Linked DNA regions of Homo sapiens. The protein of the gene in region 1 interacts with the protein of each later gene in a pairwise test. Each region holds a gene or a part of one and is shown on either strand. Other genes may lie near its edges.

Region 1 (7,797 bases):
CCCCTTTATCAAAGCGAGAGACTGCAGTCATTCATTTATTGTCATTCTCAGGAGACTGCTGTCTTGAGGACAGAGATGGTTATATCCAATAATGTCCACTGGACATAAGGTGGTGCCTGACTCAGCCTGTGGCCACAATAAATGCTGAATGAATGCATGGCCTCTATAAATGTATTTTATTTTCAAGTTGGATGAGAACCTGATTAGGAAATCATATTTTTCTTTTCATCCACCCCCGACCCCTGAAATGAGGCCACTTTATAATTGCTTTGTTGAAGGAAACTGGGCAATAATGGCCATCAGAAAATTAGATTATACCCTGATCGTGTACTGTTTACTAACATAGGTGAAAGAGTCCAGAAGATCTTGGCACATGGTAAATAATAAATGAAGAAAACAACCATTTGCCAGACGCTTTTCTGAGTGTTTTTATATGAATTAGCTCATTTCACAGTAAAATGTCGCATGAAATATGGTATGGATAAGGAAAGTGAGCTCAGAGAGACAAAGCAGCTTGTCCAAGGTTACAGAGGTAATAAGTGGGAGGGGTGGTATTTGAGTCTGGACACCACCTCTTTCACCAATCTGCTATAACGTATTGCCTCCCACAACACATGAGATGCTTTACATCTACAATCAGGGGATGTTGGTTAACAAACGATTTGATTGTTTTCTAACTTCCCAATCCCAATTATTAGATTTGTGCTTTTCTTTCTAATTGGGCAGGTGAAAATCATCATAGTAAGCATAGTTATATGTTATGGTTTTTCATTCATTAAAAAAATGACTCCCAAAGAGTAGAAGCATGGTAGATTATCATCTATAAAACAAGATGTTTGAACAAGGGCTTTTTCTGGATTTCTAATTCTGGCTTTCTAAAATACTATTCTTTTTATTTTTTATTTTTATTATTTTTTTGAGACAGGGTCTCATTCTGTCACCCAGGCTGGAGGGCAGTGGCACCATCTTGGCTCATTGCAGCCTCTGCCTCTTTCCTATCTTCTTATCCCCAGGATTTTTAGAGTTCAAATGAATCAGAAAACAAGCCTTTGAAAGGCCAATAGTTATTATAACACTTACCTTTCTTGACTAACGGCACTATTTCTCAGAATTTCAAGTTCATTTAATGACATTTTATGCCTTTCTTTTATTTCATTTACTTTCTGATGAGCTTTGTGGAGTAAGTTAACAAATTTGTTTCTTTCATTTCGAATGGTGTCATACAGTTTAGCAAACTCTCTCAGTCTGTAAAAATACAAAGTGTTTACTGAAACTTATGAAATGAACATCAGGTTTTTTTCCCCTCACCTACGTAGATAAAACACCACATAATTACTTTACCTCCGATAAATTTCACATTTTTTCTTCTTGTGTATCCTGATTTCAAGATCCTTTGCTTTCATTTCTTTAACAATGTTGGTGTATTTTTGCTGAAATGTACAAAAAAATGTGAAATAAATAACAACATATGAACACTCCCAGATTTATCCCACATCATTCCCTTCCATTAAAGACAATTCTCCAGCCTAGGCAACATAGTGAGACCTCATCTCTACAAAAATAAAAAAATTATCTGGGTATGGTGGTGTGCACCTGTAGTCCCAGCTACTCAGGAGGCTGAGGTGGGAGGATCGCTCGAGCCCAAGAATTCGAGGCTGCAGTGAGCCATGATTGCATCACTCCGCTCCAGCCTGGGCGACAAAGTAAGATCCTGTCTCTCCAAAAAAAAAAAAAAAAAAAAAAAAATTATTTCTTGGCTTGCTGGGTTGTACAGATCAGGGTGAAGGGTAAAAGAGATCTGAAAATTCCCTGGCTAGCTGAACTGATTCACATTGGCTAAGACAAACTGTTAACTGTTACCTAAAGAAGAGAACAAACGAGAGAAGAGAAAACGCAAAGAGCCTGCATGGCTTGGGTTTGAGGAAAAGTTTGGACAACTTTTGAGAGAGAGGAAGAGTGATTTTGAACCACACAGCTGGACTGGGTGAGTGTAGTTTATGGAAAATAGATGAGAGAAGAGGATTCCTAGTAAGTTTTGGTGAGTGTTATAAACTGAACCCTCTGTGGTGTTTTGTCAGAGACTGAAGCAATGATTTTAAAGTGCTTTCCATTCTTTTGTATGTGGGGTGTTTTCCTACATAATAAGGCATCATATTGAGATCAGCTGTAAGGAGGTGTTACACATAAATATTTTAAAAGAAAGCAGTTATATTTCTAGAGTTCTAAAAAATATATCAAGTGCTAAATACACTAGTTATGTTCTTCAAATCAAAAGATACTGGTTCTTGCATCTGGGATAAGAAACATATTCAAAAATGAAGGATTTGCTGGTAGTAAACCAGAGGAAAGAGTTTGTCAGCCTTCTCTCAAGGACTGAGAGCAAAGCCCTTTTGGTATGAGTGATTTGAAAGAAACTAGCCATAGAGCCAAGATTGATGTGTAGCATTTTTCTAATGCTGTTCTCCATGAGAATAGGGGTCAGGAAGAAACGAATATTTAAGTAACTGTACACATGAATAATAAAACAGATGGGAAAATGTAGTGTCATCTATTCTGTCTTAGGGGTGATAGTGACATTGTTTTTTTTTCTTCACCTTTGTCTTTAGGGATGTGGATGCAATGTGAACATAAAAGATTGCCTTCTTATGGAAACTGCAGCTAAGTACAGGTAATGTTTAACACACTAATTCCTAATGCTAAAAATACTCAAGGGATAAACATTTGTCCTTTATCAATTTCTGTATCTCAAGAAGAATTGTCTATTTTGGTTTAATACAAATTAGCTCATTTAATAATGAGGTTTGCTTTACATAGATTAGTCACACATAGATATACATGTATATCAGTTTTTGAAATTAATTGAAAATTATCTAATTCATAAAACGGATCAGTGTTTCTTATAACAAATAAGTATACCTCTGGTGTTTCTGTAATTTCTAAAGAGAAAAGGGAGGAAGTTTCTAACTAGGAAAGACTCACTTGAGTGGGATCTTCCCAGCCAACACCAAGTTGTCCCAGACCCTGACTTGGTGAAGATGGCTTTCTTCTTCCTTCTTTTCCTTCCTTCCCTCCCTCCCTTCCTTCCTTCTTATTCTTTATTTTTCGTTTTTGAGACAGAGTCTCGCTCTGTCACCCAGGCTGGAGTGCAGTGGCGCAATCTCAGCTCACTGCAACCTCCGCCTCCTGGGTTCAAGCGATTCTCATGCCTCTGCCTCCTGAGTAGCCGGGATTACAGGTGCCCACCACCACGCCAGGCTAATTTTTTGTACTTTTAGTAGAGATGGGCTTTCACCATGTTGGGCAGGCTGGTCTTGAACTCCTGACCTCAGGTGATCCACCCGCCTTGGCCTCCCAACGTGTTGGGATTACAGGCGTGAGAGACCGCTCCTGGCCCAAGATGATCTTCCCACATCTCTCCTCTCTCCTCTCCTTGTCCTGCTCCTGCATCTTACCCGCTTAGCCACCCTGTGCTTTGAAGCTGCCTTTCTTTCATCCAGTCCTCCCTGACCACTTCTTTACCTAGTGAAACCCAACTACTCCATGAACTTCACTCTTGCTGCAGCCTTCATTATGGAGTCTAAATTGTTTAACATGGATTAAGTGACTTTCATCATCTGACTTGTCCCGCTCTCTGGTCTCACTATTTGACATCCTTTCTCCCCATCTTCCCATGTGCCAGCCATCCTGAACTTCTTTTAGTTTCTTAAATATTAAAGTAGAAAAATAAACAGTGAAAGGGGGATGTGAAGTGCCTGCAGTGGGTTGTGCAATGTAGATCTTCTCTTTTTTGCAAAAATCTACTTCATACCTCATTGCTCACTAATGCTTTGGCGTGAGTGAGCTCTTTCTGCAGAATGAGAAGAAATACCATTCTATGTAAATCCTTACTTAGACTGAGAACAAGGGATGTGCTTAGAAACAGACCAAACAGACCACATCTGGGTCATGAGATAAATTCTTTTTTTTTTTTATTTTTGAGAGGAAGTCTCGCTCTGTCACCCAGGCTGGAATGCAGTGGTGCGATTTTGGCTCACTACAACCTCCACCTCCTAGGTTCAAACGATTCTCCTGCCTCAGTCTCCCAAGTAGCTGGGATTACAGGCACCTGCCACCATGCCTGGCTAATTTTTGTATTTCAGTAGAGATGGGGTTTCACCATGTTGGTCAGGCTGGTCTCAAACTCCTGACCTCAAGTTATCCACCCGCCTCAGCCTCCCAAAGTGCTGAGATTACAGGCATGAGTCACCATGCCTGGCCTGATAAATTCTTCTATTTTAGTAATATGTAATATCCTGTTTATTTTTAACAGGGAGCTTCTGGGCATGATCTGGACATAATCCTTATATGGAATAAACAATTCTAATGGTAGAATTTTAGCTTGCATGACAGGAGTGCTGCCTTACCATTTGTTTTATTGTTGATTTTAGGGGGGAATGTTGCACTGGCACTTTGTAGGAGGCCCAGGAAAATCATGGTGTGATGAAGCAACTAAGGGTATCTGGCATTCGATTAAATGATGCTGTCTTGATGAAGTTGGGAGGGACAGTTACCTAATGCTACCACTCTTGAGTTGTTCCTGGACAAATCACAGTGGAGTCTGAGATGGGAGTGAAAACTAAATGATATCTGCAGCCTATGCAGCTGCCAGCCCTGTCCACTGGAGGCACCCACTTTATTCTTACTGAAATTGCCATCTGTTCAAATCCTCCGATCATTATCAATGATCTCCTTTCCCATCTAAATTGTTGATTACTGTTAATTGAATCTTGGGACTATCTTTCAGTGCATGATTGAATCTCATTTAGGGAAGATTTATAGTCACTGGTACTTGAAGGAGAGGCACAGTTATAGTGGTTCCTTGGTATACATAGGGAACTGGTTCCAGGACCCTTTGAGAATACAAAAATCCAAGCATATTCAAGCAGTCCCAAAGTTGGCCCTGTGGAACTCACCTGTAAGAAAAGTGGGCCTTCCATATTTGCAGGTTTTGTATTCTGTGAGTACTCTACTTTTGATCTGCATTTGGTTGAAAAAAATCTGTGTATAAATGGACCCATGCAGTTCAAATCCATGTTGTTCAAGGGTCAATTGTATAGCTTTTCTTTTTTTTTTTGAGTTTCCTTCCAGTTCTTTTTTTAATATTTATATATTTTTATTATACTTTAAGTTCTAGGATACATGTGCACAATGTGCAAGTTAGTTACGTATGTATACATGTGCCATGTTGGTGTGCTGCACCCATTAACTCATCATTTACATTAGGTATATCTCCTAATGCTATCCCTCCCCGCTCCCCTCACCCCACAACAGGCCCCGGTGTGTGATGTTCCCCTTCCTGTGTCCAAGTGTTCTCATTGTTCAATTCCCATCTATGAGTGAGAACATGCAATGTTTGGTTTTTTGTCCTTGCGATAGTTTGCTGACAATGATGGTTTCTAGCTTCATCCATGTCCTAATGCACGTGGCATTATAATGAGGCTACCCTGAACTCTTGTAGTTATCAATGAATGGTTAAAAAAATGCAGTTACCTGAGCTTTCAGGAAATCCTTGGACTTTTGTTCCTTTTCATCAATTTTGATTTGAGTCATGCGGAGAAGGTTGACTACTAGCTCTTTCATGTTTTCTTGCTCCTTTAAAAGCTTGTTTTCTTCTGCAAGTTGTTGTTCTACTAACTTAGACTCCATTTCTGATATAATTTTCTTTTGAAAAAAAACACAGATAATATTATAAGTTATTTGTTTGAAGTAATACAGTAAAGCTAGTATCTTAGACTACCTTTTTACTTCCTATACAAAATGTATTTTTTTAAACAGGCCAGGTGTGGTGGCTCACGCCTGTAATTCAAGCCTTTGGGAGGCTGAGGCAGGATGATGACTTGAGGCCAGCAGTTCAAGACCAGCCTGAGCAACATAGCAAGATCCCTCTCTATAAAAAAAATAAAAATTAAAAATAAAGTAATGGTGTTTTAGCTTCATTGTTTTCATTTTGTAAAATAATGTGAAAATCGATGGGTTAACATGATAGAACCTCTTTGTATTTAGACTGTATTTTCAAGTGACTAAGAAAAAGAAGACACATAAAAACAAACGAAAATTTGAAATTAGACATTGGTGAAATAAAACATCTGTGGTTTACTTTTAATGTAATCAACAGCCCATAATTTAAAAATCTCATTCCTTTGAATACTTTTTGCGGTTCAAACATATTCTTTTTTCTCAAATTTAGTGTAGGATTGGAGTGGACTTTGAGATGAAGAAATATGCCCACATGAAGCAGGATCATACTCTCTTTGATGACTCTCTTATTGATAAGGTTTTGTGGAGCACAGTTAAAAGCACAACTTTGTATGAACGCTTCTTAGATAGAAGCTTAAATGAGCATTGATATTAACCTGTTGGGCCAAATTCCTCTTAGCTACTTCAACTTCCTTGTGAAGCTCTCGCCTTCTCTCAGATAATGTAGAATCATCTTTGGGGATAGCTTCCATCTGGAAATCAAAATTTAAAAACATGCATTTATGTAAGAAATAAATCTTTGGGAGGCTGAGGCAGAGAATTGCTTGAACCCGGGAGGCAGAAGTTGCAGTGAGCTGAGATCGTGCCACTGCACTCCAGCCTGGGTGACAGAGTGAGACTCTGTCTGAAAATAAATAAATAAATAAATAAATAAATAAAATTCACTGCTGTGTAGTCAACCTCATCACACACTTTTTGAAAATGCTGAGCAAATCACGAATCTCAATCTTATAAGAACTTCCCTTTATGCCAAATATTCTTTATAAGCCATGGCAAATTAAAATATGAAGACCTGCCAAAAATCTATAATTTGCCAGCTGCAAATGTTTATTATTTAGAAATAAATCTTACTAATAGCTAACATTTATTGAACATAAACCAAGTGTCCAGCAAGGTTCTAAATGCCTGTGTATACGATCTTATTTCATCATTACAATACCCCTCATGAGGTGGGGAATATTTTCTCCAATTGTACAGATGAAGAGAATGAGGCACAAACACATTTAAGCAACTTGCCTCAATGGTGCAGGTGTAAACCCAGGGAGGTAGACTTGGAACCCATGATCTGCCTAACTCATCTAACTCATGACCCAGCACTTTGGAGACATGAATATACTATGACTATTCAAATTATAGTTATTATAAAATGTGAGTACATTTATGAAATTGTATAGGATAAAGAAAAATATGTAATTTATTAATAATAGTGGGGATAGTTTGCTACTTATATATAGTCATTTGATTAGTAGCTGGAAATTTCTTACACAAAAGAAAAGCCTCAACTTTTTGGTTGATACCTAAAATTTCACCATTACATTTCTGTTGTAACGGCTTGCACTTTTCTCCTGTGTTGACGTACTTTAGGGAAAAGGCAAATCTCACTCTTTAAGTCTTTGTTGCCCTATTAGGAATGAGCTTGTCAGATTCTTTGTGATGAAGACGAGAGTAGAGAGGAGGACATGTGGCAGCTGATGGGGAAAGGGTACCATTCAAGGCTACAGGGAGGGTCATCTTGGGGTGCTTCCAGCCTACTTGACTTAGAGCAAGTTTAGAGTTGGCTATTTACACCAAAAGCTCATGACTCCAATCTGATGTGGTTCAGTTCCTACTGTGACAGCACACACTTGTAGGCCCTAAGGTTGAATAATGGCCAAAATTTAGACCCAAGAAAGGAATATCACACTGTCTAGTGATTTGAAGGTTACTTAACAGGATCTTTTTGAGGATCATGCTGCTATGTTAAAGTCACTAAAGTGTGTCTTTGGATGCCCCATCATCCAT
Region 2 (7,797 bases), on another chromosome or scaffold:
CTAACCAACTCCATCTTGTTTTTAACCTCCAATCTGCCCTTGGTCATTCCTGGGCATGGGCCAAGATATTAATAAATTTGGGAGAAATTTAGTTTATGATTTAAATGATAATAGCTCATCCCAAAACTAAACTGCCTTTGTAAAACTAATGAAAGGACACCAGGTCAGGAGGATGCGAAGGACCAGAATTCTGCTAAGATGCAGGTCAGTTAAATGATTAGCAGTTATTATTCCAGAGGGCACAAAAATTTGCAACATCCTCAATTACTCCTGTAAATAACATCACTATTGTAGTACACAGGACTGGCCTTTTGAGATGTCTTTTCAGGCTTTTGCACTTCTGACTACCCAATGGCCCCTCTCAGACCAGCCACTCCTCTGTGGCCCCAACCCAGAAGCAGACTCAGCACGCAAGGACCAGGACTGTTTTTCTATATCCCTGTGATTCCATCCCCAACCAATCAGCAGTACCCATTCCCTAGCCCCTGCCTACCAAACTATCCTTGAAAAACCCTAGCCTCCAACTTTTCAAGAAGGCTGATTTGAGTAATAATAAAACTCCTGTCTCCCATTTAGCTGTCTCCATGTATATGAAATTATTTCTCTCTTGCAATTCCCATCTTGATAAATTGGCTCTATCTGGGTAGCAGGCAAGAAGAACCTGTTGGGTGGTTCTTACCTGTAATTCTTCCTGTCCAGCAAAAACCATTTATTCTTCTTGTCCAGTTTTAGGAAAGCATGCCTGTTGAGATTGGATCACCTTTCTTCTTGGAGACAGTCAAGGCAGTGCCTATTATGTTGGCCTCCCAGGCAAGAGGGTTTGCCAACTGGGGTGATTTCCATGAGCAGAGCTTTAGAATGATTCATTCCAACCTGACTTAGAACAATTTGCTTTATTTCTTCTTTTTTAAATTAATAATAGAGGCAGGGTCTTGCTATGTTGCCCAGGTTGGTCTTGAAGTCCTGGACTCAAGCAGTCCTCCCACCTTGGCCTCCCAAAGTGCTAGGATTACAGGCATGAGCCACCACACCCAGCCAGAATAATTTACTTTAAAGAGTTCTTCTTCCTTTTCTACATCTTAGCCCCATTAAATTACCTCGGTAAACCTTACGTCAAAACTTGGGGTTATGGTTTTCATCTTTCATTTCCAGGAACTAAGATGCCATCCCTCCCATCAGAAGGAACAGAGTTAAAGGAGTATAAACCAAAAATAAAATTCTAAGGCCCCCCAACCATCTGAATGGACTTCCTCCTCAGTCAGCGCCCTTAAAATTTAACCTGAGAGACTGTTTCAGGGCATGATGGGAAGTGGGGGTCAAACATGCCTCGTTATACCTCTCTGGCATTAACATCAACACAGACTTTAAGTCTAATAAGAAACATTTTGCAACCTATTCTCTCTGAAGCCTGCTAGCTAAAAGCTTCATCTGCATGATAAAACCTTGGTCGCTACAGCCTCTTATCTTAACCCAGACATTCCTTTCTGTTTGATCCCAGGTCTTTAGACAAACTCAGCCAAGTGTCAACCAGAAAACATTTGAATTTACCTGTAGCCTGGAAGCCCCACTTCAAATTGTCCCACCTTTCTGGATCAAACCAATGTATTTCTCAAATGTATTTGATTGATGTCTCATGCCTCCCTAAAATGTATGAAACCAAGCTGCACCCAAACCACCTTTGGTACATGTTCTCAGGATCTCTTGAAGGCTGTGTCACAGGCCATGGCCACTCATATTTGGCTCAGAATAAATCTCTTCAAATATTTTACAGAGTTCAACTCTTCGTCAACAGAAGAAACATTAGGAGATGGGGATGGGGCTGGAGTTGGGGGTGACTGACATTGTGTTCTAGTGGCTAGTTAACCAGCTAATCAGCCAAGGAGAGAAGTGGTGACTCAAGATAATAGGTGTTTTCTCTGAAGCAGTGGGACCATGGAGAGGAAGAAGAAAGAAGGGAAAGGACTTTTTTACAAATCCATAGCTGCAGACAGGAGACCATCTAAGATCTAGAGGTGGCCAAAGAGAGAAGTGACACGAAGAAAGGAAAAAAAGGAGATTCCCTCAGGAACCAGAAAAAGAAGGCAAAGGTTTGGTCCCGGAAGTACAAGAAAGTTCAGTCCTGGGCTCAGGAACGGGGTCACACCATTCCTATCCAAGAGCTGTTAGGAATGAGACAGAGTAGGAATGGGGGCTTGGGTCAGCTCACTCCCACTATGGCACTCTTTTCATGCATTCCCACTGATCACAAAACCCACACCACTACCTCACTGACACCATAATGTCCAAACCATGCCTTTTACTCAAAAGAATTCCAGTAACTAGGAGATAACCAAAGTTGTGAAGTGAGTGTCCTATCTGGGGAAGGAATGCTGAACAACTGATTTACAGCCTTGTTGCCTCTAGCCAGACCAGGTGGCCCGCTGCTCAAGATAACCATAGCAACCAGACAATGCTGACCTGCATACCCTACCTGATCTGCTTTGCCCAGCCCAGCCTGCATACCCCACCCTAATATCAATTCCTGATTTTTTTTTAAAAAGCCCTACCAGCTCTTTTCAGAGTCAGGTGCTCTCTCTCCCTTTTGCATTGAGAACCCAAGAACCTATGTTCGATAACAGTAACATATTATTTAAGAATCCAGGTTAAATGAGATAAAGAATACAAAGGGCTCTGCAGTGCTTAGACACTCAATAAATGTCAATTCCCTTCTCTCTCCCCTCGGCTATCAAAAATATTCAGTTATTTAGCTGCCTCTGTTTAAGGAGAGTGTGAAATGCAAAAAGCAGTAAAGGTATGTATGATGTAATCCCATTTAAAAAAATACACAGATACCCACAGAAATATGTAGAAAGATTCATATAAAATGTTCTGTTTACATTGTTGGGTGATGTTGTCATGGGAAGAGATCAACTTGTTTAGCCATATTTTTTCCTTTTCTACAATAAATATAGGCTAGGATTACAGGCATATGATTCTTAAAAGGTTGAGAAGTATATAGTATTATAGGAAGGTTTCCAATAAAAAATGTTCGGTTGAAAAAAATTTGCACTTGAAGAAATATTTCAGTATCTGGATAACTCACTTATATAAATACCTTAATCTGTAAGAACACCAGCTAAATCATTGTTTACTATACTTGCAAATAACGTTGTAATTAATAGAGTTAGAAGGTAATAGGTTCAAGGAACATCCAGCTAAGATTCCAGTTAACTTGTATAATACTAAATAGGTATTTTTCAGTAGATTTCAGTTTCAGGTATAAATAGCTTTTTATTTTTATTTTTTTTAAATAGACAAAATAGACCTTAAGAAAAAAAAATAGACCTCTAAAAAAAAAGATGGGATGGGCCAGCATGGTGGCTCACGCCTGTAATCCCAGCACTTTGGGAGGCCGAGGCAGGTAGATCACCTGAGATCAGGAGTACGAGACCAGCCTGGCCAACATGGTGAAACCCGGTCTCTACTAAAAATACAAAAACTAGCTGGGCGTGGTGGCGCACACCTATAATCCCAGCTACTTAGGAGGGCTGAGGCAGGAGAATCACTTGAACCTGGGAGGCAGAGGTCGCAGTGAGCTGAGATCGTGCCATTGCACTCCGGCCTGGGCAACAGAGTGAGACTCCATCTCAAAAAAAAAACAAAAAGATGGGGTGTGGGGTGGTCTCACTATGTTGCCCAGGCTGGTCTCAAACTGCTGAGCTTAAGAGATTCTCCCTTCCTCACCCTCTCAGAGTAGCTGGGACTACAGGCGAATTGCCCTACCATTGCCAGGTTGTAAACGGCTTTTTTTTTTTTCTTTTTCTTTTTTTTTTTTTGAGATAGGCTCTTGCTCTGCCACCCAGGCTGGAATGCAGTGGCATGATCACAGCTCACTGCAGCCTCAAGCTCCTGAGCTCAAGCGATCCTTCCACCTCAGCCTCCTGAGTAGCGGGGACTACAGGTGCGCACCACCATGCCCGGCTAAGTTTTTTTTGGAGAGACACGATCTCACCAAGTTGCCCAGACTGGTTCTCAAACTCCTGGCCTCAAGTGATCCTCCTGATTTGATGGCCTCCCAAAGTGACAGGATTATAGGTGTGAGTCACCACACCTGGCCAACATTTTTTTTTTGAGACAGGGTCTTTGCTCTATCACCCAGGCTGGAGTGCAGTGACCCTACCATGAATAGCTTTTCTTAAGGTCTATTTTGTCTATACGTCCCTTCATAGCCATTTTCAGAGTTTTGGCACAAGGAAAAAATAATCAAGTGAAATTCCTTTTTTGTTTGTTTGTTTGAGACAGAGCCTTGCTCTGTCACCCAGGCTGGAGTGCAGTGGCGCGATCTGGGCTCACTACAACCTCCACCTCCTGGGTTCAAGTGATTCTCCTGCCTCAGCCTCCTGAGTAGCTAGGATTACCGGCGCGCGCCACCACGCCTGGCTAATTTTTGTATTTTGAGTAGAGACAGGGTTTCACCATGTTGGTCAGGCTGGTCTCGAACTCCTGACCTCATGATCCACCACCCACCTTGGCCTCCCAAAGTGTTGGGATTACAGGCATGAGCCACCATGCCTGGCCTCAAGTGAAATTCTTTAGGTTTTCCATAATCTATTTTTCGGTTTAGCCTTGAGCAAAATTTTAAAACTTTATAACAAAGTGTATACCTGATAACATAATCCAATAGAATACTTACTACTAATATCTATAATAAAAATCAGAAAGAAAAAGCCCACAGTTTAACAACTTTGTGTTTACATACCCACTTAAATCTAAACTTGGGATTTTATTGGGCTCAAAATGTTTTATAATAGTGATAAGATCAATTACAATAAAATAATATATAAAATTTAAAATATAATTCTCTATTTTTAAAACATAAAATTCTGGTCCTATTTTTAAAACTACTTTTTTTTCTGGGGGTGGGGAGGACAGGGTCTAACTCTGTTACCCAGGCTGGAGTGCAGTGACACAATCACGGCTCACTGCTGCCTCGATCTCCTGGGCTCAAGTAATCCTCCTGCTTCAGCCTCCTGAGAAGCTAGGACTACAGGCATGCATCACCATGTCCAGCTATTTTTTAAAAAATTTCTTTTAGAGATGGGATCTTGCTATGTTGCCCTGGCTGGTCTCAAATTCCTGGACTCAAGTGATCCTCCCGCCTCAGCCTCCCAAAGTGTTGGGATTACAGGTATGAGCCACCCTGCCTTGCCAAAAATTATATTTCATTTTTAAACTCTGCAGGACATTTGATTAGACACTACTTACCCTATAATAAAACCGGGGAATGGTCTTATAGAATTCATTTGTGTTTTTTCTACCTCCTTTCCATTCGGAGTAATATTTTGTAAATAAATCCATTTCTTCATCTTTTAATTCTTGTTCACTTTTTTTTTCTGGTAACAAAACAGATTAAGGGGAGCACTTTTAAAATCAAGCAGTACTTTTACTCAGGTCATCCTATATATTATATTAATAGTTTAATTAAAATAGTTGCAGTGCCAAAAAGGCCTTCACAATTGTGCTTAGACACTGAGCATATTAACTTTTCTGAAATACCAAGAATCACTACCCTCTACTGAAGCAGCCTCCTCTACATCTTCAACCATTTCTCATGCTCCCTCTACTTCTGTTTATCGCTAAAGCTAGTCTCTTCCTCAAATTACCTCTCCTACAGAACTCTGTAGAGTGCTCCTAATTCATTCAATGAAAAGAATTTACTGAGCACCTACTATGTACAGAGAACGCTGTAGTAGACACGGAATGAGGGGTGAGCAAGACAGCCCCAGCCCCTGACCTCATGGAGTTTCAGCCTCATAATCACTGTTTCTCTACCTAATGTAGAGAAAACAAACAAAAAAACTCATCCTCTGTCTGAAGCTCAAAACTCAGGGCTCTATTACCCTGCAACTCGCCTGCTATTGGCACGTGGCTGTCTCATTCAGCCAATTCCTCCCCACTTATTTGTGGACTATGGTGACTGGTACACAGTGTTCTTCACAAGGTCCTGCAATCATTTAGGATGAATAAACATTTATGTGGGTGACCATGGGTCCTGCAACTCCAAAGACTTTCACCTCTAGTTCATTCTGCCATTTGGTTCTATGACAAGATCACAGATTTTACTTGATCCCTTTCTGAAATCTTAAGCTCAAATATACTCTCAGATCATCCTTTCTGGTAATTCAAAACCTCACTGCCATACCATTTCCACTTCAGCCTCACTGAGCTCTTGAATTCTGTGATCTATTTTCTCAAAAGTTATTTTACTCTTTCTGGTCTCATTTCCTTCCCAACAAGCCTGTAATTGTTTCCTTGAATTCCTTTTATGACTGCATTTCTGCTGCATCTGTTAATTTTTTTTTTTTTGGAGATGGAGCTTCACTCTTGTTGCCCAGGCTGGGGCGCAATGGTACGATCTCGGGTCACGGCAACCTCCGCCTCCCAGGTTCAAGGGATTCTCCTGCCTCAGCCTCCTGAGTGGCTGGGATTACGGGCATGTGCCACCACGCCTGGCTAATTTTGTATTTTTAGTAGAGATGGGGCTTCTCCATGTTGGTCAGGCTGGTCTTGAACTCCTGACCTCAGGTGATCTGCCCACCTCGGCCTCCCAAAGTGCTGGGATTACAGGCATGAGCCACCATGCCTGGCCTATTATGTTAATTTTTAACCTTAGACCAAACCTATAAGTTAATTTCTTTACTATGGCTCAGTGCTGTTGTAGAAAACTGCAAAATTTTTCAAGCAAAGTCAAGACTGACAACTGACCACTGAAGTTAACAATATAGCAGTCACTGATGATTCTTGACAAGCAGGAATTCGAGACGAGTACAGATTTAACCAACAACTGTTTTAACAAATATTGCTATAAGGGGAACAGAAAAATGAGGAATGGCTAGAGGTGGAAATTAAGTCAAGAAAGTTTAAGATGGGAGAAATACCAGCATGTTTATATGCTGATGGGAATGATTAAAGAAAAACTGATGATACAGGAGAAGGGACAACTGCAAGAGTACATCCTTCAGCAGGCAAAAATGGAATCTACTACAAAGGATAGGATCTAGTACACTGATGAAGGAACCAGACTTACGCAGGTGCTGTACAACCTATATAATTTACTTATTATTTTATTATTTCTCTCCACACTAAAGTGTAAGTTCTACAAAGACAGAGATTTTTTTGTGTTCTGCTATAAGCTACAACGGTACTTGGCACAAAACAGGCATGCAATAAATATCTGCTAAAAGAATGCAGTGGGTTTAAGAGTTAAGGGGTCAAGAAAGCACACAAAGTACAAGTACAGGTACCTTCCTTTTTTTTTTTTTTTTTTCCGAGACTGAGTCTCACTGTCACCCAGGCTGGAGGGCAGTGGCGCGATCTTGGCTCACTGCAAACTTCACCTCCTGGGTTGAAGTGATTCTCCTGCCTCAGCCTCCTGAGTAGCTGGGATTACAGACACTTGCCACAATGCCCGGCTAAATTTTGTATTTTTAGTAGAGAGAGCGTTTCACCACGTTGGCCAGGCTGGTCTGTCTCCTGACCTCAGGTGATCCACCCACTTCAGCCTCCCAAAGTGCTGGGATTACAGGCATGAGCCACTGCGCCCAGCCAAGTACAGGTAACTTCTTTGAGAAGTTTTCCTATGAAGAGTGCAGAGAAATGCAACAGAAGCTGGAGAGGGATGTGGGATCAAATGACTTTTTTTTTTTTTTTTGAGATGTAGTCTCGTTCTATCGCCCAGGCTGGAGAGCAGTGTCGTAATCTCAGCTCACCGCAACTTCTGCCTCCTGGGTTCAAGCGATTCTCCCGCTTCAGCCTCCC

What was found. Proteins that work in one complex are often made in the same cells at the same time.
Region 2: the proteins of CCDC146 (region 1) and PPP2R3C interact in binary tests that used the Homo sapiens proteins (3 or more experiments, as listed by UniProt).

The regions. Positions count from the first base shown.
Region 1 is NC_000007.14:77,272,385-77,280,181, reverse strand, and holds part of CCDC146 (coiled-coil domain-containing protein 146), read right to left. Parts: intron 6,489-7,797; coding exon 6,393-6,488; intron 5,960-6,392; exon of another isoform or gene 5,815-5,959; intron 5,701-5,814; coding exon 5,530-5,700; intron 2,669-5,529; exon of another isoform or gene 2,607-2,668; intron 2,039-2,606; exon of another isoform or gene 1,830-2,038; intron 1,431-1,829; coding exon 1,342-1,430; intron 1,246-1,341; coding exon 1,081-1,245; intron 1-1,080. UniProt on the Homo sapiens protein: Essential for sperm flagellum biogenesis and male fertility.
Region 2 is NC_000014.9:35,111,366-35,119,162, forward strand, and holds part of PPP2R3C (serine/threonine-protein phosphatase 2A regulatory subunit B'' subunit gamma), read right to left. Parts: intron 5,373-7,797; coding exon 5,245-5,372; intron 1,766-5,244; exon of another isoform or gene 710-1,765; coding exon of another isoform or gene 680-709; intron 1-679. UniProt on the Homo sapiens protein: May regulate MCM3AP phosphorylation through phosphatase recruitment. May act as a negative regulator of ABCB1 expression and function through the dephosphorylation of ABCB1 by TFPI2/PPP2R3C complex.